4 separate regions of the Homo sapiens genome follow, and all the other regions are linked to region 4. The links come from fine-mapping of genetic effects on gene expression. A gene starts in region 4. Each other region holds a variant in brackets. All regions are shown on one strand. Distances are between the middles of the regions. Region 1 overlaps POU2F3 (POU class 2 homeobox 3). Region 2 overlaps LOC105369530 (a long non-coding RNA gene). Region 3 has its middle 21 kb from the start of TRIM29. Region 4 holds the start of OAF (out at first homolog).

What was found. PIP is the estimated chance that this variant, and not a neighbour inherited with it, causes the effect. A credible set is the group of variants that fine-mapping cannot tell apart.
Region 1: its variant is the best candidate, but not a certain one, in a credible set for the expression of OAF in whole blood (TOPMed, PIP 0.72).
Region 2: its variant is the best candidate, but not a certain one, in a credible set for the expression of OAF in atrial appendage (GTEx, PIP 0.69).
Region 3: its variant is the best candidate, but not a certain one, in a credible set for the expression of OAF in prefrontal cortex (CommonMind, PIP 0.78).

Annotation. Positions count from the first base shown.
Region 1 is chr11:120,275,273-120,280,950 of GRCh38, forward strand. All of the region lies in intron 3 of POU2F3 (POU class 2 homeobox 3), which reads left to right. LOC105369531 (a long non-coding RNA gene) reads right to left here. Exons shown (of 4, transcript XR_007062924.1): 3 at 240-364. Among named protein-coding and RNA genes, the nearest start is that of POU2F3-AS1, 12 kb to the left of the region's middle. RefSeq lists a silencer at 913-1,102. The variant G/A (reference allele first, on the strand shown) is at 3,023.
Region 2 is chr11:120,188,083-120,193,760 of GRCh38, forward strand. LOC105369530 (a long non-coding RNA gene) reads left to right here. Exons shown (of 3, transcript XR_948101.2): 1 at 1-764; 2 at 847-914; 3 at 1,034-3,189. Among named protein-coding and RNA genes, the nearest start is that of OAF, 20 kb to the right of the region's middle. The variant A/G (reference allele first, on the strand shown) is at 2,405.
Region 3 is chr11:120,156,675-120,162,352 of GRCh38, forward strand. No RefSeq gene overlaps it. Among named protein-coding and RNA genes, the nearest start is that of TRIM29, 21 kb to the left of the region's middle. The variant T/G (reference allele first, on the strand shown) is at 2,845.
Region 4 is chr11:120,208,680-120,214,357 of GRCh38, forward strand. OAF (out at first homolog) reads left to right here and starts at 2,353. Exons shown (of 4, transcript NM_178507.4): 1 at 2,353-2,831. The coding sequence starts at 2,601. RefSeq lists an enhancer at 1,106-1,647 and silencers at 1,981-2,240, 2,421-2,470, 2,561-2,670.

The sequences.
Region 1 (5,678 bases), 67 kb after region 4:
CTGGTGGTGGCAGTGGGAGGACCCCAGTGGAGGGCTCTTCTGAGAGGGAAGGAGGGTTGAGTGCCCTGGCAGTTGTGTTCAGGAGCCCAGGGCACAGCTGTCCTTGCCTGGAGTCTCTCCACTCCATTTCCTGCTCTTTGGGCCACCAGCTAACTTCAGAAGAAAACTGGGAGGTAGAATTGGATTAAAGGGGCTTGGGGGTTCCAAAATGACAACTGCATACGTAGGTGGCCTCACACCTGCTCTGTTCCGGTAACTTCTGGAACCCTCATCTTCCAGGGCCATGGATTTCCACCAGGCAGATCAGGACAGTGTTTTATGTATGCTGTTGAGCATTGTGTTGCTTGAAGACCTCCCAAAAGTCCTGTGAGGCCAGAAGAGAGTCTGAAGCAAGTTGGCAGCTGTCCTTGTCCCACGTTTCCTGCCCCAAAAGCTGAGAATCAGTGGCCTGGGGTTTCCTCTCAGCCCCACACTTGGCAGCATTCTAAGCTCACCTGCACCAATGGCTCTCCCATGCCTGTTTCTGGACACCTGCGCCAGCTCGTCCTGAGGAGTTGCCCTGGTGTGCCCTAGTGTAGCATTTAGTTTTAAACCAACTGGGATTTTCCATCATTGTTTTGTTGAATGTGACCAACCAACTACCACGGTTCTCTAGCTGCTCCGAGTACAAATTGACTTGTAATTAATTGGCTCGTTGGGGCATCTTCTTTAAAATCAACAAGATTCAGGTACGGAAAGGTCTCCAAGGACCCAGAATGATGGAGAGGTTTCTTCAGGGAGGCCAGTGAGGGAAATGCAGGGGCAGCAGTGCCAGGCCCTGGAGTTGGCAACGGAGGGTCCGTGGTGATGGCAGAGTAAGTGCCCCCCCACAACCAGGAGCAGCCTCAGGACAGCAAGCACCAAAGCCACTGAGCCTGAGAGAGCAAGGGAGGGAATGAATAGGCCATGTTGGATTGTTTAGTTCCACAAACCTGCACTTAGCTGACTATTAGGAAGACACAGAAGAGTACATCATGGTCCCTGCCCACAGGAGCTCCCAGCCCAGTGGGGAAGATGTAGGGTCTGCCGCAGAGAGGGAGGTCAGTGGGGCTGGTTCAGAGGGCCTAAGAAAGCCATGCCAGGAGAATAGAGCCTCAGGGTAGTGGGTCCAATGGAGGGAGGCTCCGAGACCTCTTTGGGAGGATGAGAACTGAGGGCTGAAAGACTCTTGTTCCCCTGAGGATTGCTTGCTTCTGTTCCAGGATCCAGCCTCCAGTCCTGTACTTCCTGGTGGACACAGGATTTGGGGGTGGTGGGGCAGGGCAGGGCGGGGCAGGCTAAGAAAGAGAAGAGGATGAGGAGCCAACAAACCACATTTTGCTCAACCCTAAGCAGTACAGCTGGGTTTTCAGGGTCAGTCTATAATAACCTCTCTCTCCCCTCCAAAATGTCAAAGCAGAAATTTAAATGCAGGAGCCTGACAGATAGAGCTATGTTGGAGATACGGTTTTGATGCCTGGCCACAACAGGCTTTCTAAGACCTCACTGCAGAATTAAACACATCCACTAGGCACAGATAGAGCCGGCAGAAAACAGACCTGAAAGCACCCTCCTGGCCGGGTGCAGTGGCTCACACCTGAAATCCTAGCACTTTGGGAGGCCGAGGTGGGTGGATCACCTGAGGTCAGGAGTTCAAGACCAGCCTGGCCAACATGGTGAAACCCCACCTCTATAAAAAATACAAAATACAAAATTACAAAAATATGCATTTTTTACTAAAAAATACAAAAATACAAAATACAAAAATAAAAATACTAAAAATACAAAAATACAAAAAAATATTAAAAATACAAAATACAAAAAAATTAGCTACTAAAAATCCAAAAAAGTTTAGCCGGGCATGGTGGTGCACGCCTGTAATCCCAGCTACTTGGGAGGCTGAGGCAGGAAAATCACTTGAACCCAGGAGGCAGAGGTTACAGTGAGCCGAGATCGTGCCACTGCACTCCAGCCTGGGTGATAGAGCCAGACTCTGTCTCAAAAAATAAAAAATAAAAAAATTTTAAAAAGCACCCTCCTAGTCAACAGGCAGATCTGGACAGAAGGCCCATATGGGACCAAGCCACACCCTCCACCTCCTTCTAACCCTGATGTTCTCAGTTTTATCAGATCCAGTGTCTCTTGTAATGAGGCTCCTGTAAAACCCCTTTAATATCTTAGAGTGAAATTTATAGAAAACATAGGCCAGGTGCGGTGCCTCACGCCTGTAATCCCAGCACTTTGGGAGGCTGAGGCAGGTGGGTCACCTGAGGTCAGGAGTTCCAGACCAGCCTGGCCAACGTGGTAAAACCCCATCTCTACTAAAATTGCAAAAAAAAAAATTAGCCGGGCGCAGTGGCTTATGCCTGTAGACCCAGCTACTCAGGAGGGTGAGGCACAAGAATCACTTGAATCCGGGAGGCGGAGGTTGCAGTGAGCTGAGATCACACCACTGCACTCCAGCATGGGCAGCAGCGAGACTCCGTTACAAAAAAGAAAAAACAGATATACAAATAAAAATCAGTAATATTGTCTAATTTGAATAAAAAGGAAAAAGCAAAGTAATTTATAAAACAATGTGTATTTCAGCAGGTATATCCTTAGACATATTCCCCTAAAAGGTTTAATGAGACAGTAGGTCCCTCATGCCTCTATGAGTGTGACAGACACAAGTACAGGCTGATATTGGTATGCTATCCTGGCTGCTCAAAAGCCACAATCTTTCAAAGTGTTAAACAACTCTTTGTAAAGCTCCAGCCAAATCTAATACTTCCTCAATTAACACAGAAAATGGCATCCCTGGGTAAAATGCATATTAAGAGTGTGTAAAAGATACTTTGTGTTCACATAAAAAATAGAGTTGGGTTTTGGGCTTATATGATTATAGTCAGGCTGTTCACCGACACAGATGTCCGGTGGGGCACTTGGAAGTCATATAAAAAGTTGTATGGGATGCAAAGAAGTGTTTATTTGATACTGTCTTCTACAGCGCAAGATGTCTAGA[G/A]TACCTGCCCTCAGCCCAATAAATGCAAACCACGCCTCCTAATTATTAAGACAGCCAGAGAAACCACGCCACAGATTTCAGAAAACATCTCCCGGGGTAGCTGTGATCCCCAGTGAGAACGAGTGACCTTGACCCACCAAGGGGATAAGTCACTTCTCTTACCAGGAGACAGAGCCAGATGTGACTGGCTGGAGACTTTCCACATAGAAATACAACACCAGGAAAAGGCGCCCCCAGAAAGAATGCATACAGCCTCTGCCCTCAGAGAACTTACTTGCTGTTTATCCAGTGAGGGAGATGGGTCTGAAAAATTCCTAAAAATGTCAGAGCAAGGGGTGTGTAAACCAGCGCCACCCCCACAGGGAATGAGCTGCGCTGACTGAGTGATTAGGTGGATATGGAGCAGAATGTTCAGGCAGGAGATAATTGGCAAGATTAAATAACTCTCCATGGACACAAGGGCCTGTCAGGGGGTGGAGGGCAAGGGGAAGGATAGCATTAGAAGAAATACCTGATAAAATGACGGGTTGATGGGTGCAGCAAACCATCATGGCACGTGTATACCTATGTAACAAACCTGCACATTCTGCACATGTATCCCAGAACTTAAAGTATATATAAAAAAAGATTAAATAACTCCCTTCTCCAAAGTGATGTCCCCATTGTAGTCAAGATACTATAATAATTATAGCATTTCTTGAACTCTGACTGTATGCCGGGCATTGAGTATAAAAGGGTTTAGCAACCCTGTGAAGTAGTTGTCATCATTCCTATTCCATAGATGGGAAAACTGAGGCACTGAGAGGTTAGGGAATTTTCCCATCATAACACTGTTCACAGAGAAGTCTGTATTTAAAGACAGGCTTGCCAGACTCCCGACTCTGTGGTTCTCCCCCCACCACTGCCTGCTTGTCTCGGGAGGAGGCCGTGTGATATGGTGGTTGGGTCATATTGTCTGTATTGGTCAACTCCTCTGCGCCTCTGATTCCTCATGTGAAGATGAGAACAGTAAGAGTATCTATTTCCTAGGGATGGCGTAAGAATGAATAGAGTTAAGATCTATAAAGTACTTCGAATAATGTCTGGTATACAATAACGCACCAATAAACATTAGCTCTTATTATTTTCTGATGAATAAGAACCCATCATTTTCTCCACCACCCTTCTCCCTGTGTGGTTACTTAGCTGGGCTTGCACCAGGTTGGAGGGCTGCAGATGCTATTAGAGAGGTAATTTTTTTCTGGAATCCATCATCTCCCAATCTCAGCCCCACCGCCCTCTGCAAGCGTGGGCGGGGAAGCAGTTGGTAAACGTGTTTGTTTTTGGAGAGGTGGGAATTTGTCCTCTTTTGCCAGCCATGCTTGGTGCTTTGGCCTGAGGCTCAGGTGTCAACTGTTTCCTGTTTGTAGCCTGGGCAGCAGCCCCAGTACTGGGTGGACCAAGCCCTGTGGCAAGCCCCATAATGAACAGCACAGAGGAACAGGAACAGCTGTCTGAGTTCTCCAGAAGCCTGTGCCTAGTACTTGCTGGTCTACCAGACAGCCCCAAACACCACCAAAAAGCCCCTCTGCAGCATGGGGTTTGGGCCTAGCTGATTCCGGCTCCAGCACTGGCATGAGCTCTGCATGCATTCTGGATGGGTAGCGGAGACCGAATGCTCGTCTTGGCTCAGGTGTTGGGTGGAGAACAGTGAGAATGAAGGAGGGAGAAGAAGGTAGGGGTCCTTCACCTGATTGTGCAGGAGCCAAAAAGTGGCTTCTCTCTGGAGATTTCAGTGAGTTGCCTTTGGTGGATGCAGACACTGATGACACTAAAAGCAGGGCCAGGCCTTCCCTTTTTCAAGCAGGCGTCTCTTTGGAGCAAGGCTTTTGAAAGGGAAGCTGGATTTAGCCCCAAACAATAACAGGGGAAGTTAATACTATTTATTGAACCTTCAGTTTATAACAGGCAGTGGGTTGAGTGCTTTGCAAGCAGTATCTCATTTAAACCTATAGCCACCCAGAGCAGTAGATTTTATATTTCCATTTTAAAGATGAAGAAACTGAGGCTAGGAGAGGTCAAGCAACCTGCTTAGAGCCAGAATTCAAACCAAAGTTGAAGTGCTGTGCCAGGCACTTTACATAGGTGATATCTTACTTGAGATTACCTAATTAATCCTTACAACAGCCTGGTGAGGTAAGCATTATTCTTCCCATTATAAAGCTGGGGAAACTGTAGCTCAGAGAGGTTAAGTAACTTGCCCAAGGTGGAGCTCAGATGTAAGACAGGCCTGTCTGACTTTCTACCATACCAGGCTGCTTTTGAGAGAAAGAGGACAGACAGAGAGAGAGAGAGAAAAAGAGAGAGAGAGAGAGTGTGTTTGTGTGTGTGCACTCCTGCAAATGAGACATGACCTAATGTTACCCAGAGCCCCTCACTTGACATGTGTCCAGTACTTTTCCATGTTTCCAAAGCCCTGTCAGTCATACCAACACCCGCAGACCTCTTCTGGCTGAGGCTTGCCAGCAGAGATGGTAGAGATAGTATCTGCAGGCTCAGGGAGGGTTGCCAGGTAAAGGGTGGGGTGGAGAAGTGTTCCCACCCAAAGAGGGTTCCCCTGGCCCTTCGAGAAGCCGCCTCCCTGGGCCTGTGCGTGAGAAGGGTCCAGGGAAGAGGC
Region 2 (5,678 bases), 21 kb before region 4:
CAATAGTTTGAGACACAGTTTGGGCTCTAGATGTGGTGTTTCGTGATCAGTCTCTTCCTCTGTGGTAGGAGTTTTCATCTCCTCTGATTAATGAAATTTCAGGAGAGGGATCGAAGGCAATTCTGCTCCTGCTTGGGAGTCCAGTTTCCAGTTCGATATGGGAGCTTCAGAAGACAGCCTCATCCTGTGCTTTGGGAGAGACAGGGGCTTTTGTGGGAGGTAGGTCAGAGAGACCTGGAGGCTGCTTCTTCAATTCAGCATGTCAAAGTGCCATCTTTGTGGGTATCATTTTCTGAGCCCTAATACCACAGATGCTGGCCCCCCAGAGCCCAGGCCACTGCTGCTCCACCCTTCCCTGTCCCCCAACCCCACGGGCTGTACCACAGATACACACACACCCCCACCACCACCAGCCCACCACTCAACATCCAAACACACAAAGACACTACACAAACCAGCCACCCTGCACGCACCTCACCACCACATTCACATACGCACTCACTTGTTCTCTCACACATCCTATGCCCACAGTTCTAGGACCACAGTCACAGACACCTCACAAACACCTCACTGCACACATGCTCTGAGCCATACACCCTGGCACAATGCACACCGACCCCACCTCACCCCACGCCCCTACACACAGGTCCAGACTTCCCCAAGCCAAGGAAGGGGCATGACACTCTTCTTAGGCCTCTCATCAGAGCAAAGTCTGTAAAGGTTTAGAAGAGTGTGAGGTGTTCCTGTCCAACAGGATTACCTTGGTGAGTTGAACCCACCCACCACCTCCTGCCCTGGGCATAAATTCTCCCATTCAACTATACCCCTTCCTCTGTCCCTCTCCAGGGAGAAAAGTGGCCTCTTCTCAGCAGGTGACCCTGGGGATGGGCCCCGGCTGCTCTTTGCCCTCTGAGGTAGGAGATATCCTTGCACATTTTCTCAGCAAACTCTTATTAACCAGCTACTCTGTGCCAGGGAAGTGCCGGGGAAGTGGGAGGCAGGGGCTGAAAGAGGTGCTTTCTCCACCCTTAAGGAACTTACAGCCCAGCAGCAAGGATGACCATGGACTGTGCTGCAAGCCACTCCACACCCTGCAAGGGAGCGGAATAAAGTGCTCTGGAGTCCAGTGGTGGGAGAGAACACTGCCAAGCTGAGAAGGCAGGCAGGCTTCCTGGAAGAGGTGACATGTGGGCAGGCTTTGACCAATGGGCAGCATTTACCTGTGAAGGCCATGGGGGTAGGGAGAATTCAGCCTCACTCCTACCCACAAAGCTCTCTAGCACCAGGAACCAGTTTCATGAAAGACAATGTCTCCACGGATGGGAGGGCAGGAAGTGGATGGTTTGAAGATGAAACTGTACCACCTCAGATCATCAGGAATTAGATTCTCATAAGGAGTGTGCAATTCGCAATAGGGTTCACATCCTTTGAGAATCTAACGTTGAGGAGCATGGGCGGTGGGGGAACCCCTGCTGTAGCACATCATCTTGTTTTATTGTATTCATAGCACTTATCTGAATTTATCTTGTTTATTTGAATATCTGTTTTCTTTTGTCTCCACCTCTACAACGTAAGCTAAAGCCTCCTGTGTCTTGTCCACCACACTTAGTGACTGTGTCCCCAGCACTTAAAACAGTGTCTGGTGCTCTTTAAAGGGAGGAAGAAAGGGAGACAGGGAGGGAAGGAGGAAGAGAGAGAGAGAGAGAGAGAGAAGGGAGGCAGGGGAAAAGCTCACCTGCCAAGGCACAGGACCTGAAGGCCAGTCTGGCAGGAAGAAGATGATGGCAGGCCTTGAATACAGGTTGAGGAAGGTGGACTCAACATTTGCCAGTGGGGAGCCATGAGGTTTATGAGCAGGGCAGTGATGCATACAGGCCAGTGGTCCCTGGGCCAGCCATTTATGCTGCAGAATCTCCTTGACTATGAAACATATGGGTCTCTGATTTAGCCAATTGACAGGTAAACTCTACCTAGTCACAGGATTCAACCATGACCTTTGGCAGTATAGGTACATACATAAACCTATTATACAGCATTTTAGCTTACATTGTAGGGGTGGGGCCGGCCAAACACAGATGTTCAGATAAACAAAATAAATTCACATATGCCTTCTCTCCTTAGCTTCACCCTCAGACCATCCCACAGAAATAGGTCCTAGATGGAAACAGCTTATGGTACAAAAGTCATGTCTTTGAGAAAACACATTTGCATGGAACAGCCATACCATTACCTTTCTCTAAAGCACACACGGAGGACAGTACGGCATGCAGAATGGAGAGGGAAGTGGCTAGATCGCTCATACCTTCCTAGGAGCCCCCTTCTACCCTTTCGAAGTGGACCAAGCCAGTGCCTAGTGTCTCACCCTTGCTAAAGAATAGCTCACTTGATTTTAGGGCCAAAGAAG[A/G]GGGTGGTAAGGCCAGGCAGGGGCTGAACGAGAACCCTCTCGTGAGCTACCTGCCCACTTTCCAAAACTGAGCAGGACAAATGCAACGGGGAGGTTTCATTTTAAATGTTCTCCAGTTGGAGAAGGGCTTTAATCTCAACAACGAAGACTCGCCAGCCCTTCAGCCCCTGGGCCTAGGGCTGAAAGCTCTGGGCCTTCACGGAGAGGTCCACTGTCTGCAGAGTCCTGGCCATAGCTGGGAAGGAGGGATCCTGGGCTCTGGTCTTGACTACAGGACATCTGGTATCTCTGTTGGAGCCAAGTCGAATCAGATGCTCAGGCTCCTAGTGGGAAGGGGCAGAGCAGCAGAGAGATCTGACCTGGAAAGAGCATGTGGTGGGTGCAGGCACAGGGCTCTGGATGCAGGACTGCAGCCCTAACTCTACCGCAGGACAGCTCTGCTACCTTAGGCAGCTCCGTTACGCTTTCTGCACCACAATTTCCTCATCTGCAAAATGGAGAAATCATCACTCTGCCTACTTCAGAAGAGCACTGTGGGGATCAAATGAGCTGAAAGGGAGATGAAAGGAGTTTGCGCTGCACACAGGGAGATGATGAGGCCATGCCCTCCTCACTGTGGCACAGAACACGGTAGCAGGAGGGACTAGAAAGGCCCTGTACTCAGAATTAATTAGGAGGCTCTTGTTTCTTGATAACTGCCCAGGGCCTGAATCCCAGCCCCACTTCTCACCTGTAGGTGACCATGAACCAGACATCTCAGCCCTCTGGGAGGCTTGTCTTTGAAGCGGGAGGAGGGGAGGAGCTGGCTCCAGTGATTGCTAAGGTCCTGTCGAGCTCTGCATTTGTTCCCTGGAGCCTCCCTAATTTCCAGACTCTAAAGTTCTGAATTCTCCCTGCTGTCCCATCTTACTCTCAACCAAGGGGAGACCAGGGAGGAGGAAACTGGGCTCCCCCTGAACACACTGGCTGTCTGGCAGCTGAGAATGGCCTCAAGCAGGGAGAGAGGATGGGGCTTCCCAAGTGCTAGGGAGAGCAAAGGACCCAACTTGTGCTTACAACTGCTCCCTCTATGAACAGGCAAGAGATGGAGGCTGGGGGGCGGGGCCCAACCAGGGGGGCTGATTTGAACCCTGACTCCTCCTACTGCGTGTTTATTATTCTATCTTCATTTTCATTCATTTATGTGCTTGTGCAGCAAACATTTGTAGGGCCACTATTCTGTGCCAGGCACTGTCCTGGGTGTCGGGAATACAGACATGAGGACGTTCACAGCCTCGTGGGAGACGACAAGAGATGTAAACAGATGGTTCGCACATAGAGTGAGAAGCAGGGGGACAGGAGCTCTCCTGAGTACTGCATCCTGACTACTGGGTGCCACAGAGCACAAAGGAGGGTCCGCACCCAGCCAAGGGGGCCTCTCTCTCCTTAAACATCACAGTCAGCTTGCTGAGATGATGGGAAATACAGGAATCGCTTGGTGCCCAACAGCTTAAGGGGTGGTAAAGAAAAAACATCCAAGAGAAAGGTTCCTGGGTGGGATAATTAATGTTTTGACGAGGAGGAAAATATTAGTGTGTGTTGCTCAGCATGCAAACACCTCAACTAACAAAACGGCTCGGAGAAAACAAGTGGAACGGTGGGGTTTTTCTCACAAAGATTTTTTTTTTTTTTTTGAAAAAAAAGAAGAGAAGAGAAAAAGATGGCAGTCACAAATAACCTCCCGCAGCTGAAAGACATTCCCCACCGGGTGAGGAAAGCAGGGCCCAGCTCAGTAGAGAATCTTGCTGCTGCTCCTTCCTGCAGATGGCCGACCTGGCACTTAGACCCAGAGCCCCAGCTCCTGACCCACGCTGCCATTTCAAGGCACTCCTCCCAGTTGCTGAGGCAAGGGGGAGTTCTGCACACACCAGTTGAGCATTTTAAGGAAAAAGAGATGGCCGGGCACGGTGGCTCATGCCTGTAATCCCAGCACTTTGGGAGGCCGAGACGAGAGGATCACGAGGTCAGGAGATCGAGACCATCCTGGCTAACACGGTGTAAACCTCGTCTCTACTAAAAATGCAAAAAAATTAGCCGGACGTGGTGGCGGGCGCCTATAGTCCCAGCTACTCCGGAGGCTGAGGCAGGAGAATGGTGTGAACCCGGGAGGTGGAGCTTGCAGTTAGCCGAGATCGCGCCACTGCATTCCAGCCTGGGCGACAGAGCAAGACTCTGTCTCAGAAAAAAAGAAAAAAAAGGAAAAAGAGATTTTCCTGATTTGCTAGGGTGCATTCGGTGGTGCCACGTCTAGACAGCTGCCTCCTACCCCAAAGAGTATCTTCTCAGGGAAGGTTACATTGTCTCCGGCTCCTGTACTCAGTGGAAGGGCCAGCTTCCTCTGAGGAGATAAAAGGGTTACTTTTGTTTCTACTTCTGTAAACTGTAAATATGTGCTCAGAATCTCCAGGTGACAGGACAAGCCCCAATGCTCCACTTTTGGAATTGATGCCAAAGCTTGACGGAGCTGCCAATTCATGCAAGAAAGTCCACCGGCACCAGACGGGGTGCTCTTGGCTTGTTTCCAGACCTGCTGCCCTTCCCCAGCTGTAGTTCCGGGGGCATTGCCCCTCAGGGGAGGACTGGTACCAGGCGCCCCTCTGCAAATGGACACACCAACGGTAGAACTGGCTTGGGCCCTCCAGAGACAAAGTTCAGGAAAGATCCTCCTCCCATGATCGGCTCCAGAGTGCTCCAGGGCTGGGGCCTGAGGGAGGAGCTACGAGGCCGGCTTGCGGCTGTGGCAGCATGCTGCTGACCTTGAACTCACCTTGACTACCACCAGAGCGGCCCCAGAGGCAGGCAGGGGCCAGTCCTCCGCTGTGTTGGGACCAGAGGGAGCACACAGAGCCAGAGAAGTCCAGAGTCCTCACCCTTCACTGGGACAGGATGGGACCTGGGTCTTGCCAACCAGCTTGGGCAAAGGTAAACCTTCTTTGTGTGCCCCAGGGAGGCTCAGAGCCAGCAGTCCCCACTGTATGGGGCCTGTGCGGGGAGAGGGTTCAGATGTGCCTCACGGCTGCTGCTGGCCGATCCCAAGGTCTTCTTCCACCAGAGGCACCTCTGCCTCCTTGGCCAGCAAAGGTTGCCACATGTGGCCACCCTTCCCTGCTTCCTGCCTCCCCCCATTTGCACCCCAGGTGTGAACACTCTTCTCATGGGTGTTTACATGCCTACTCGAACACCACAGGCAAGTCCTTGGCCAGCCAGCTCCTTTCCACCCTAGACCCCACAGGTC
Region 3 (5,678 bases), 52 kb before region 4:
ACCCCTGCATGAGATGTGGTGTCCTCCTCCTGCTGGCTATGAGTATATGTAACTAACAAACTGTTGTCAGTTTCATCTGGTGTCAGGCATTGTGTCATCCCCATAACCCTAGGGTGGGAATTTCTCTGTCACCTACTTGGTTAATAGGAAGCAATTAAAATACTTTCCAAACGATATATTTGAGATTTCTTAGATTTTTATTTTTCTCTCATTTTTTAATATTTCATTGATTTCTGTTTTCATCTTTTTATTTCCTTCATGGGGTTTAATTGGATTTAATTTTCTCTTGTCTAGTTTCTTTTGGCAGTAGCTCAGGTGATTGATTTTAGAACATGTTTTTCTAATAAAAGCATATAATACTATATGTCTCTATCTAAGCATTGATTTAGCTACATCCAAGAAACTTTGTTTACATGCTTTTTTTCGTCTATAGTAGAATCTTTTTTCTACCAGGATAGGGATCACCTTTGGACTCACGCCTTAGAAGTCCCCAGAAGATGCCTTATGCATCTCCAGAGGCAAATTGGTGATTCTTTGCAATAACAACTTTTTGGGACTCTTAGATGCCAAGTAGTGACTGACAACACTTAAGTTCTTAACAGAGGTTCAGTCCTCAAGTGGGAAGTATGTGTGATTTACAACTGCAGGTATTGCAAAAAAAGATAATCTACTGACCAGCAATCGTATTGGCCTTTCTTCTCACATAGAAGGAACTCCTAGTCTGAAATCCTATGATTAAGGTGGTACTGGGTGTGGAGAATTATTTCCACTTTCTCTTAGTCCTACCTCAGATGGTGCTGCAGTGGCAATTTTGGCCAGTGAAGCATTTGCACAGGAGTATGGCCTGCAACCCAAAGAGTTCCACATGGCTGATAAGGCCTCAGGAAACTTACAATCATGGCAAAAGGTGAAGAGGAAGCGAGGCTTGTCTTACATGGTGGCAGCAGAGAGAGAGCCCTGTATGCTTTTTTATTCAGTTCAAAACATTTTCTAATTATCCTTTTGATTTGGTTTATTTCAAAATCTGCTGTCCAATTTCCAAATATTTGGGGGATTTTCTAGATATATTTTGCTTATTGATTTCTGCTTTTATTTCACTGGTGTCAGAGAACATATTTTCTATGATTTCACACTGTTTAAATCTTGAGACCTGTTCCAGAAATCTATCTTGGTAGATCGATCTTACTTGTACAATTGAAAAGAATGTATGTTCTGATTTGTTGGATACAGTACTCTATAAAATGTCAATTAGGTCAAGTTAATTGATGTTGTTGTTCAAATATTTTATGCCCTAACTGATATTCTTTCTACTTGTTTTGTCAGTTACTGAGAGAAGAGTGTTAAAACCTTCAACTATAATTGTGAACATATCTATTTCTCTTTTCAGATCAGTTTTTGCTTCATATAGTTTCAAGCTCTGTTATTAAATGCATAAACATTTCAGATTTTTGTCCTATTGATTATTTTACCTCTTTTTCATTAGGAAATATTTCTTTGTTCTTTGTAGTATTCAAAGTCTACTTTGAACATTATTTATATAGTCTCCTCAATATCTTTTCATTAGTGTTTGCATGGCATTTTTTTCTATCATTTTAATTTTAATCTATTTATACGTTTATTACAGTGAATTTCCTATAAATAACATTGTAGTTGAATCTTTTTTTAATCCAATATGACAATCTCTGCCATTTAATTGAAGTGTTTAGACCATTTACAATTAAAGTAATTATCACTATTGCTGGGTAAAAACCTATCTTCTTGCTATTTGTTATTAGCTCAGTTTGTTCTGTGCTCCTTTTGTCCCTCTTTTCTGCCCTCTCTGGATGTAAGTAAGGACTTTTTATGATTCCTTTTTATCTCCATTTGTGGTATATCAGCTGTTTCTCTTTATTTTATTTTTAGTGGTTGCTCTACACTTTACAATATACACCTTTAGCTTACCACATCTACCTTCAAATAATCTTTACCATTTCACATATTTTAAAACAGGTGTCAGTAAACTTTTTTCATAAAGTGTCAGACATTAAATATCTTAAACTTTGTGGGTCATACAGTCTCTGTTGCAACTACTTAACTCCACCATTGAAGCAAAAGCAGCCACAGCTTATCCATAAATGAATGATCTGTATTCCAATAAAATGTTATTTACAAACACTAAAATTTGAATTTCATATAATTTTCATGTCACAAAATATTATTTATCTTTTGGTTTTTTCTCAACCATTTAAAAATGTAAAAACCATTCTTAGGTCATGAGCTATAGAAAAACAGGTGGATGGCTGGATTTAACTTATGGGCCATAATTGACCAATCCCTGGTATAAAAGCTTTGTAACAATATACAGGCCAATTTATATTTCCCTCTCATCCTTTGTGATATTGTTGTCATAGAATTTTACTTCTACACCTGTTACAAAGCCAAAATACTATGCTGTTATTGTTGCTTCAAATATTCAATTAAATTTTTTAAACTTTTGAGTAAGGAAAAAATTTTTATATTTACCCTTGTATCTTTCAATTATTTTCAGTGTCCTTCACTCCTTTGGGTAGAGTCAGATTCTCATATGGTATTATTTTTCTTCTCTCTGAGACCTTCCTCTAAGTTTTTTTTTTGTAGTGCAGTTCTACTGGCAGTGAATTTTCTCAGTTTCTGTTTGTCTGAAAGCCCTTTATTTTATCTTCATTTATGAAAGGTATTTGACTTGCTATAGAATTCTAGGACACAGGGGTTGTTTTTCGTTTGTTATCCTTCATGCAGTACTTTAAAGATGTCACACCTTTATCTTCTGGCTGTCTTTTTTTCTGCTGGATTTTTGAACAAATTTATTTATTTACTTATTTTTTT[T/G]ATATTCTTGCTCTGTCGCCCAAGCCGGGGTGCAGTGGCATCTTTTTTTTTAATGAGAACTCTATTGCCATTCTTATCTTTGTGCTCTGTACATGATGTCTTTTTTTCCTCTGCCTGCTTTTGATATTTTTTTATCATTGATTTTCAGATATTTGATTATAATATACCTTGATGTCATTTTCTTCATTTTTATTCTACTTGGGTTCATTGAACTTTTTAGATCTGTGGGTTTATACTTTTTATTGGATTTGGGAACATTTGACTAATAAATTTTTGAAATAATTTTTTTCTATTTCTCCCGTCTCCCATCGTCCCCTTATAACTCCAATTACATTGCTCCACAGGTCATTGAAGTTCATTTTTTAACTCAGTATTTTTCCCTATGTGCTTTATTTTGTATAATTTATATTGCTCAATCTTCAAGTTCATTAATCCTTTTTTTCTTGCAGTGTCTGATTTTCCACTAATCCCATCCACTGTATTTTTTGTTTCAGATAGTTGCATTTCTAGAAGTTCCATTTCTAGAAGTTCCATTTGAGTCTTTTTAGTACTCATTTCTCTCTCATTAAGTTCATGCATTCCTCTACCTTCTCTAACCTATGGATCATATTTATAATAACTTTTTTAACATTCTTGTTTGCTAATTTTATTATATCTGTTTTTGATTGGTTGGTTTATCTCCTGAATATGGGTCATATTCCCTCATTATTTCTGTGTTAGAAATTTTAATTAAATGTTGGGCATTCTCAATTTTATATCACTGGGTGCTGGACTTTTTTGTGTTTTTTGAAGTAGTATTGGACTTTATTCTGGTGCATAAGTTAAGTTGGATCCTTGCAAACCTTATGATTAAGCTTTGTAATTAAAGTGGGCCCACTGCAGCCTTTAGACTAGAATTAATTTAACCCAGTACTAAGCCAATACCCTTCTGAACATTCTATCTAATGTCCCATGTATTATACGATCTCTCAACTTTGGCTGGTAGGAACACAAATTCTAAGTTCCATATAAGCTCCAGAAACTGTTCTGCCCACTCTTTTATTATTATTATTATGTCAATAGCTTTAGGGTTATGAGTAGTTTTTGGTTAAATGGACATTAGTGACTCAGAAGGCAGGAAGGTGGAAGGGGGGTGAGGGATGAAAAACTACCTGTTTGGGTACAATATATGCTATTTGGGTGACAGGTATACTAAAAGCCCAGACTTCACCACTATACAATTCTGCCCATCCTTTGGTGATTCTTCAGCTTTGGGTCATTTACTCTCACAGAGTATAAATCCAAGTAGCCTGTCAAAGACTCAAGGGACACCTATGAAGATCTCAGACCTCTGTCTGTTTCTGTGAACTTTCTCCTCTTTGTTACTCTGCCCTGCAAGTTCAAGCACCTTGGCCTCCCCGAACTGCAACTTTCTTCTCAATTCAGTGAGACTACCAGGTGTATTTTGCTTCTCTCCCCCTGCTCTGTGACCTGGAAACTGCCTCCAGGCAATAAGCCATTGTAGGGCTCTCTTCATTTGTTCCCCTTCTCTTAAGGATCACAGCCCTGCACTGCCTATTATTTAATGTCTGTAAAACATTTTTTTCACATATTTTGTCCAGTTTTCTAGTTGTTGAAAGTGGCAAGGTAAATCTAGTCGCTGTTACTCTATCATGCTGAAAGCAGAAATGCTTCTTGATGAGCAAAAATTTTTTTTATTTTAATGAAGTCTAATATGTTATTTTTTCTTTAATGATTATTGATTTCTGGGTTCCATTCAAGACATCTTTGCCAACCTTTGAGTCTTAAAAATATTATTTTATGCTTACTTTTAAAAAAGGTATATTTTAAGCTGCTATATTTAGATCTATGATCCAATTCTAATTAATTTTTTGATATATGGCATAAGGTTCAGGGGTCAAGTTTCATTTTCTTCAGAATAAAGATGTCCAATTGTTTAAGCACCATTTGTTGAAAGATTTTCTTTCCTCTATAGAATTGCTTTAGCACCTCTGTCCAAAATCAATTAACTATGTTAGTGCAAGCGTATTTCTAGAATTTCTATTGTGTTTCACTGATCCACTTGTCTATATATGCCAATACAACACTGTCTTGATTGCTGTAGTTTTCTAAGTCTTAAAGTAATCTAGCATAAATCCTTCAGCTTTGTTTTGCTTCTTTTTCAGGATAACTTGGGTCTTTTGTACTTCTATATATTTTCAAAATAAGCCTGTAAAATGCTATCAGTAAAGCCTTCTAGGATTATTATTGGAATTACATTAACTCTTTAGATTAATTTGGCAAAAATTACCTCTTCTCACTCATAAATACGGCTTATCCCTCCATTTATTTAGGTCTTCTCTAATTTCACTTAGCAATGTCTTGTAATTTACAGTACACAGTTCTTGCATACTTTTTGTTAAAGAATTTTTAACTATTTTGTTATTTATAATAGTATTGTAATTGGAATTTTTCCTTTTCCAATTATTTTTCCAATTGCTAATATGCAGAAATGCAATGCATTTGTATGTATTGACCTTGTATCCTCCAACCTTACTAAATTCACTTATTTGTCTTAATAAGGTTTTTAGCCACGTAAACTATCATGTCATTTGTGAATACATACTGTTTTACTTCATTTTCAGTATTTATGTCTTTATTTGTCTTGCCTTATTGCAGTGGCCATGATCTCCAGTACATTGTTTAATGGAAGTGGTGAAAGTAGACATCCTGGTCTTTTTCCTCATCTATGGGGAAAGTATTCAGTTTTTCACCAGCAAGTATGATTTTAGCTGTAGGTTTTTCATAGATGCCCTTTGTCAGATTAAGAAAGTCACTTTTCTAGTTTTCTGAGA
Region 4 (5,678 bases):
TCACTTTCAAAGAAAAATCTGGTTTGATCTGTGGTTGAAGTAGAGAAGGAAGTTGACTATGGGGAAGAGGTGGGAAAGAGATGAGGTCTTCCATCCTTGTTTCCAAACCCAAAATGTGAACAGAGACAAACCTCAGGGACCTAAACAAGAAATCTGACATCCAGGGCTTCTTTGCCCACTTCTGGGCTGTTGTGGGAGGAGAAGGGGTAAGAGCCTGGGAAATGGCTGAGGGCAGAGCTGGTGGCGGATGGGGACAGGACCTGAAACAAGGGAAGTTAGGAAATGTGGGCGAGGCCCTTAATGACTGTGTGGGCTGACTCATGTGGGAGACCTAGCTTCAAGGCCGCATGGAGATCCAGCATCCTGTCAGGCGGGAGGCCAATTTCAAGACCCTGGGCATCTCTAGTCTAAACGGTTGCCAGCTAAGAGTGGGAGTCCTTAGGGGAGCAATCCTTGTGCTAATCCAATTATTCCCTAACAGCCTGCCTTATCTCCCGGATGTGAAGATGAACTCCTTAGGAGCCAGGTTCTCCAGGAAGGATGCTGCTTGTTTCAGATGCTCTATGTTTTTGTTTTGTTTTGTTTTGTTTTGTTTTGTAGAGACGGAGTCTTCCTCTGTCACCCAGGCTGGAGTGCAGTGGCGCAATTTTGGCTCGCTGCAACTTCTGCCTCCTGGGTTCAAGCAATTCTCCTACCCCAGCCTCCCGAGTAGCTGGGATTACAGGCGCACGCCGCCACACCCAGCTAATTTCTTTTGTATTTTAGTAGAGACGGGATTTCACCTTGTTGCCCAGGTTGGTCTCGAACTCCTGAGCTCAGGCAATCCGCCCGCCTCGGCCTCCCAAAGTGCTAGGATTACAGGCATGAGCCACCGCGTCTGGCCCAGACGCTCTATGCTTAAACATCTGCCAAATACCTGCTGTCAACCACTTATGTCGAGCATCATGTGGGCCTTGTCAAAAATGCTAATCCTCAGTTCTTTTCCCTAGAATCTGATTCCATGGGTTTAGGGATTCGGGAATCTATTTTCTAACAAGCATCCAGGTGATTCTTCAGGAAAGGCAAATTTGGAAAAGGCTGACTTGGTAGTCTCTTAAATTCCCTTCAGTCCTAAATCTAGGCAGCAGAGAGCGGGTAGCGGGAAGGGCCCCTGGATGATAGCAAGAGGCCGATTCTAGCCGGACCCTGCAGTTCACATGGCCCTGTGCTGGGGAAGCCCTAGAAGGGAAGGAGGCTGCAGAGAAGGGAGTTTTCACCCATCAGTAATCAAGGTCCCAACAGAAGTGAAAATGGAAGTCAGGGAACAATTGGTTTTGAGCATCTTCGTGGGGCTTTTTCCCTTGCCTGGGACTGGCAGGACAGTGTAGGTCTGAGCAGCTTCCACGATACACACGGGGACACTTAAGCCCAAAGAATTTTTAAAACGTGCCTAAATTCCACAACTAATCAGAGGAGGCAGCAATCCAGATCTCCTGGTCTTCACCCTTCTTATTGTTGGGGTGCACCGCAGGGCACGCATGTTTCCTTGTGGCTTGTGGGAAAGCCACTGTCGTGGAGCGCCAGCGTCCCGAGTCCCTGGAAATTCTCCCAAGTGACCTGGAATCCAACATTTCCCTGGATTTTCATAGTCTATAATAGAGAGAAAGAACCGGGTCTGCGGTGGTGGGCAGGACTGAGGAAAGGCCGTGAATGCGGGAAGCACGGGAGGCAGGACTGAAAAGGAAAGAGGCACAGGGGCTCACAAAACCTGAGGGCCGCGTCCCAGTGGGTGACCTGACCCATCAAGGTCTAACACCTGGCCGTGGCAAAGCTGGGCGAGAACCCCCGATCCACCCTCCCAGTGTGGGGCAGGGAAAAGGCAGAGTGCAAAGCGAGGTCTGATTTTGCAGAAGCTTTTTAGAAATTCGCTGTCAGAGAAACTGAAAGACCAAACAAAACCCCTAAAAATCCAAGCCCGATTATTTCATCCACGTGGCACAAAAGCAAGCCAAAAAAAAAAAAGCGGGGGGGGGGGGTGGCGGTGCAGGGCGGGGGAAGAGTCACCCGTCCTGCCCCTGCTGGAAGGAAGGGATTTGCCCCGGGAGAGCAAACTTCTGACTCCGCCTGGGTCGCTGACTCCGCGCGGCCGGGCGGGAGGGAGGTCGAGGAGGCCGCTCGCACAAAGCCGCGGAGCCGCTGCCCCCTCTCCCCGCCCCCTGCCCGGCCAACGCCGAAGTGCGGAGAGCAGCCGCGGGCCCTTTAAGGGCCGCGAGGTGCGCGGTCTCTTTAAGGCGGGTCCTGGTGGTTTCTGTTTTCTGAAGGAAGTGACGGGGGGTGGGATTGAATGAAAAGTGCAAAACACAGGCTCGCAGCGCTGGAGCCCGGGGCCGCGGAGCCGGGCCGGGGCAGCGCCGTCTCCGCCTCGGGGCCGCCGGGGGCGCCCTGCTGAGCGCTACCCACGTGCGTCCGCGCCACCTCGCGGGCGACCCCGCGGCCAAGGCCCCCGGCGGAGCGGCTCCCGGGCGCCCCGAACTAGCCCCCAACTTTGGGCGAAGTTTGCCTGCGCCTCTCCCCGCCCCCACGCGGCGCGCCGGGGCCGCGGACGGCAGCGGCCCCCGGGGATGCGCCTTCCCGGGGTACCCCTGGCGCGCCCTGCGCTGCTGCTGCTGCTGCCGCTGCTCGCGCCGCTGCTGGGAACGGGTGCGCCGGCCGAGCTGCGGGTCCGCGTGCGGCTGCCGGACGGCCAGGTGACCGAGGAGAGCCTGCAGGCGGACAGCGACGCGGACAGCATCAGCCTCGAGCTGCGCAAGCCCGACGGCACCCTCGTCTCCTTCACCGCCGACTTCAAGAAGGTGAGGCGCCCTCACTCGCCGGGGTGGCACCTTCAAGCCTGAGCCCCCCGGGATCCCAGGCGCTCTCTTGCCTGCAGACGGAAAGACGGGCCCAGGAGGGAGACGCAGCTGGCCCAAGGTCACGCCGGGCTCTTCTCTACACCTCTTTGCCCACTCCCCAGGGCCCACCCCTTCATTCTCTCCAAAGAACCCCTCTGCTTCCCTTTCTCACTCCCTCCTCCAGCGCTCCCAGAGCCCCCCAGGTGCTAACCCTCCTCCAGAACTCCTACTAACGACTGGACTCCCTTCTTGGAGTCATTCCCCTGTGCTCTAGTGGGAAAGTCCTAGGCGAAGTGTTCTCGCTGTGGGCTCTCACTGTGGGTTCTCCCTGTGTGATCTAGAGCAAGCAAGCCTCTTTCCTCCTATGGGCCTGGCTTCTCACCCCTGTACAGGGCACTGAGGGGTCTGCGAGGCCTCCCAGCCCTGACATTTTGGAGTCCCTCTGTCACCTCTCCCTCTGTTTCACTTTTCTGGGGAGAGCTGGTTGCCCCTGGTCCCTCTCAAGCCGGGAGAAGCCCTGTCTCCTCTTTGGTCTGGAAGGCTGGGGCGCTTGCAGCAGGAGGATCCTGGAGAGAGACCCCAGCTGAGGCCCCCTCCCTCTGGGAGAAGTGCTGCCCTTCACTCTGCCTGGCAGAGAAGCGAGCCAACCCCCCTATTTTGGCCCAGATTAGGGTTAGGGAGTTAGAGACCAGCCCGGTGGGTGGGTGGGTGGGTGGGTGTGGGTGTGTGGGTGTGTGTCCCAGATTACGGTTTGGGAGTTAGAGACCAGCCCGCTCTTGGTGTGTGTGTGTCTGTGTTGGAGGGAATAAGAAGGGCCTTGCACCCAGGGGGCTGGGGGATTATCAGGAAATGGGCCTGGATGGTGAGTGACTAACAGTGACCCAGCAGCAGGAAAGCTGGAGGAAAAGAGGGTGGGTAAGTCTTAGGTATTCAAAAGGAGCGTTCTGTCTCCTTCCCCCAGCTAAAGAGAGGCCCTGTGAGGCTCTGTCCCTGGGGGAGTGCAGGGGTGAAGCCGATTAGATAGCTGGGGGAGCCCGGGGCCCCGGGGACCCTTGCTGAAGCTGCCTGTCTTTCCTCCCTCGTAGAGACAGGGCGCTTTAGAGGAGAGGTGGCGGAGTTTGGGAAGTCAGTTAGGGACCCAGCCAGATTGCCATAGTTAGCAGGGGTGAGGGGTTAGGCTTGACCGCTAGAGGTGGGTGGGGTTGGGGGGTGAGGCTTGACCGCTGATTGCCCCAGGGCCACGGAGTTGGCACTGACATTGGACATAAGCAGGCAGATGGGGGGTGGGGTAGTGAGCGTTCACAAATGGGAAGACTTTGTAGCCCATCCTTACTCCGCAGGCCTAAGCTAGGCACCCTGCCTCCCCACCTAAACCCTAGGAGAATTTTATCAAGTGTGTTCTGTTCCTGAAAAATCTATGTTAGTGGCTGGATCCATCAGGAATCGGGGATCTAATCTTCTGTCCAAGCCCTTTGTCCTTGAAAGTTAGCCTTAGGCCAGGCTGTGAGGCTCCCAACCCCCTGCCCACTGGATGTCATCTTGTGGCTGCACTAGAATCCTGCAGAGAGACTTCCCTGGCTGTGGCCAGGACAGTGAAAGGCAATGGGTAGGGCTGAGCTTTTATAGCCTTTAGCTACATCTGGAAGGTTTTTATTGCTGTGATCTGAAGGGAGAGGCTAAGAAGTACCCAGGTAGCTGTGATGTGCTGGCAGTAGTGGCTGATGGCGGGGGTGGGGTGCTGGGGATTGGAGTGAGGGTATGCTGGTCATCTGACTGCCCAGTTAGAAAATGCATCTGGAGATTGTGAGCACCTCATTTGAATCTCTACAGTGGTTCAGACCTCCACCCAGGTTTCTAAAGTCTGATTTTCAGGTTAGCCTCTGACCCAGAAGCTACCATTTCATACCCACCTCTGGCATCTCCAATTTCATCAGCAAGGGAGGGAATTGGGAGTGGAAGACACCGAAAGGAAACCAGCTTTCCCAAGTCCCTTTAACTCCAGGTTTCTCCATTGGCCTAGGACGGGGTGGAGTTGGAGAGTGCAGTGTGGGGGAGAATAGCCTTACCCTCACCCAGGCCACTCACTCACTGCCTGCACTGGCCACAGCAGCTTCTATGTCCAGATCCTTCTAGGGTGGGTCACCTCTCAGTTCTCAAGGCCCCATGCCTCATAGTGTTTGTCAGATTTCCATAAGAAAGTTTGGTCTAGAAGGAATGATTTTTCCTATAAGAAAAAGACTTCGGCTCGGTGTGGTGGCTCACATCTGTAATCCCAGGATTTGGGGAGGCTGAGGCAGGCTTATCGCTTGAAACCAGGAATATGAAATCTTCAGGCCAAACGAGACCCCTGTCTCTACAAAAAATTTAAAAATTAGCGGAGCACGCTGGTGTGTGCCTTGTAGTCCCAGCTATTCAAGGAGGCTGAGGCAGGAAAACCACTTGAGCCCAGGAGCTGAGGCTGCACTGAGCTGCAATTGTACTACTGCACTCCAGCCTGGGAAGTCACGCTTTTTGTGTTTCTTGTACCAAACTCATTTGCAGTGATTTGGGAAAAGTCCTCATCTACTTGGGAAGAGCCTTGTTTGCCATTTGATCACGTTGGGGAGAACAGTCCAGACTGAATGAGACAGACTTGGTTTACCACTTATTAGCAGGTTCACCCTGGGCAAGCTACTTGATCTCTCCAGACCTTCATTTCTTCATCTATAAAATGGGGATAATAATAGCACATATCCCACAGTTAGTAGTGCCTATGACATCCTTACTCTGTATTAGATACTGTGTTAAGGGCTCAAGACATAGGAGCTG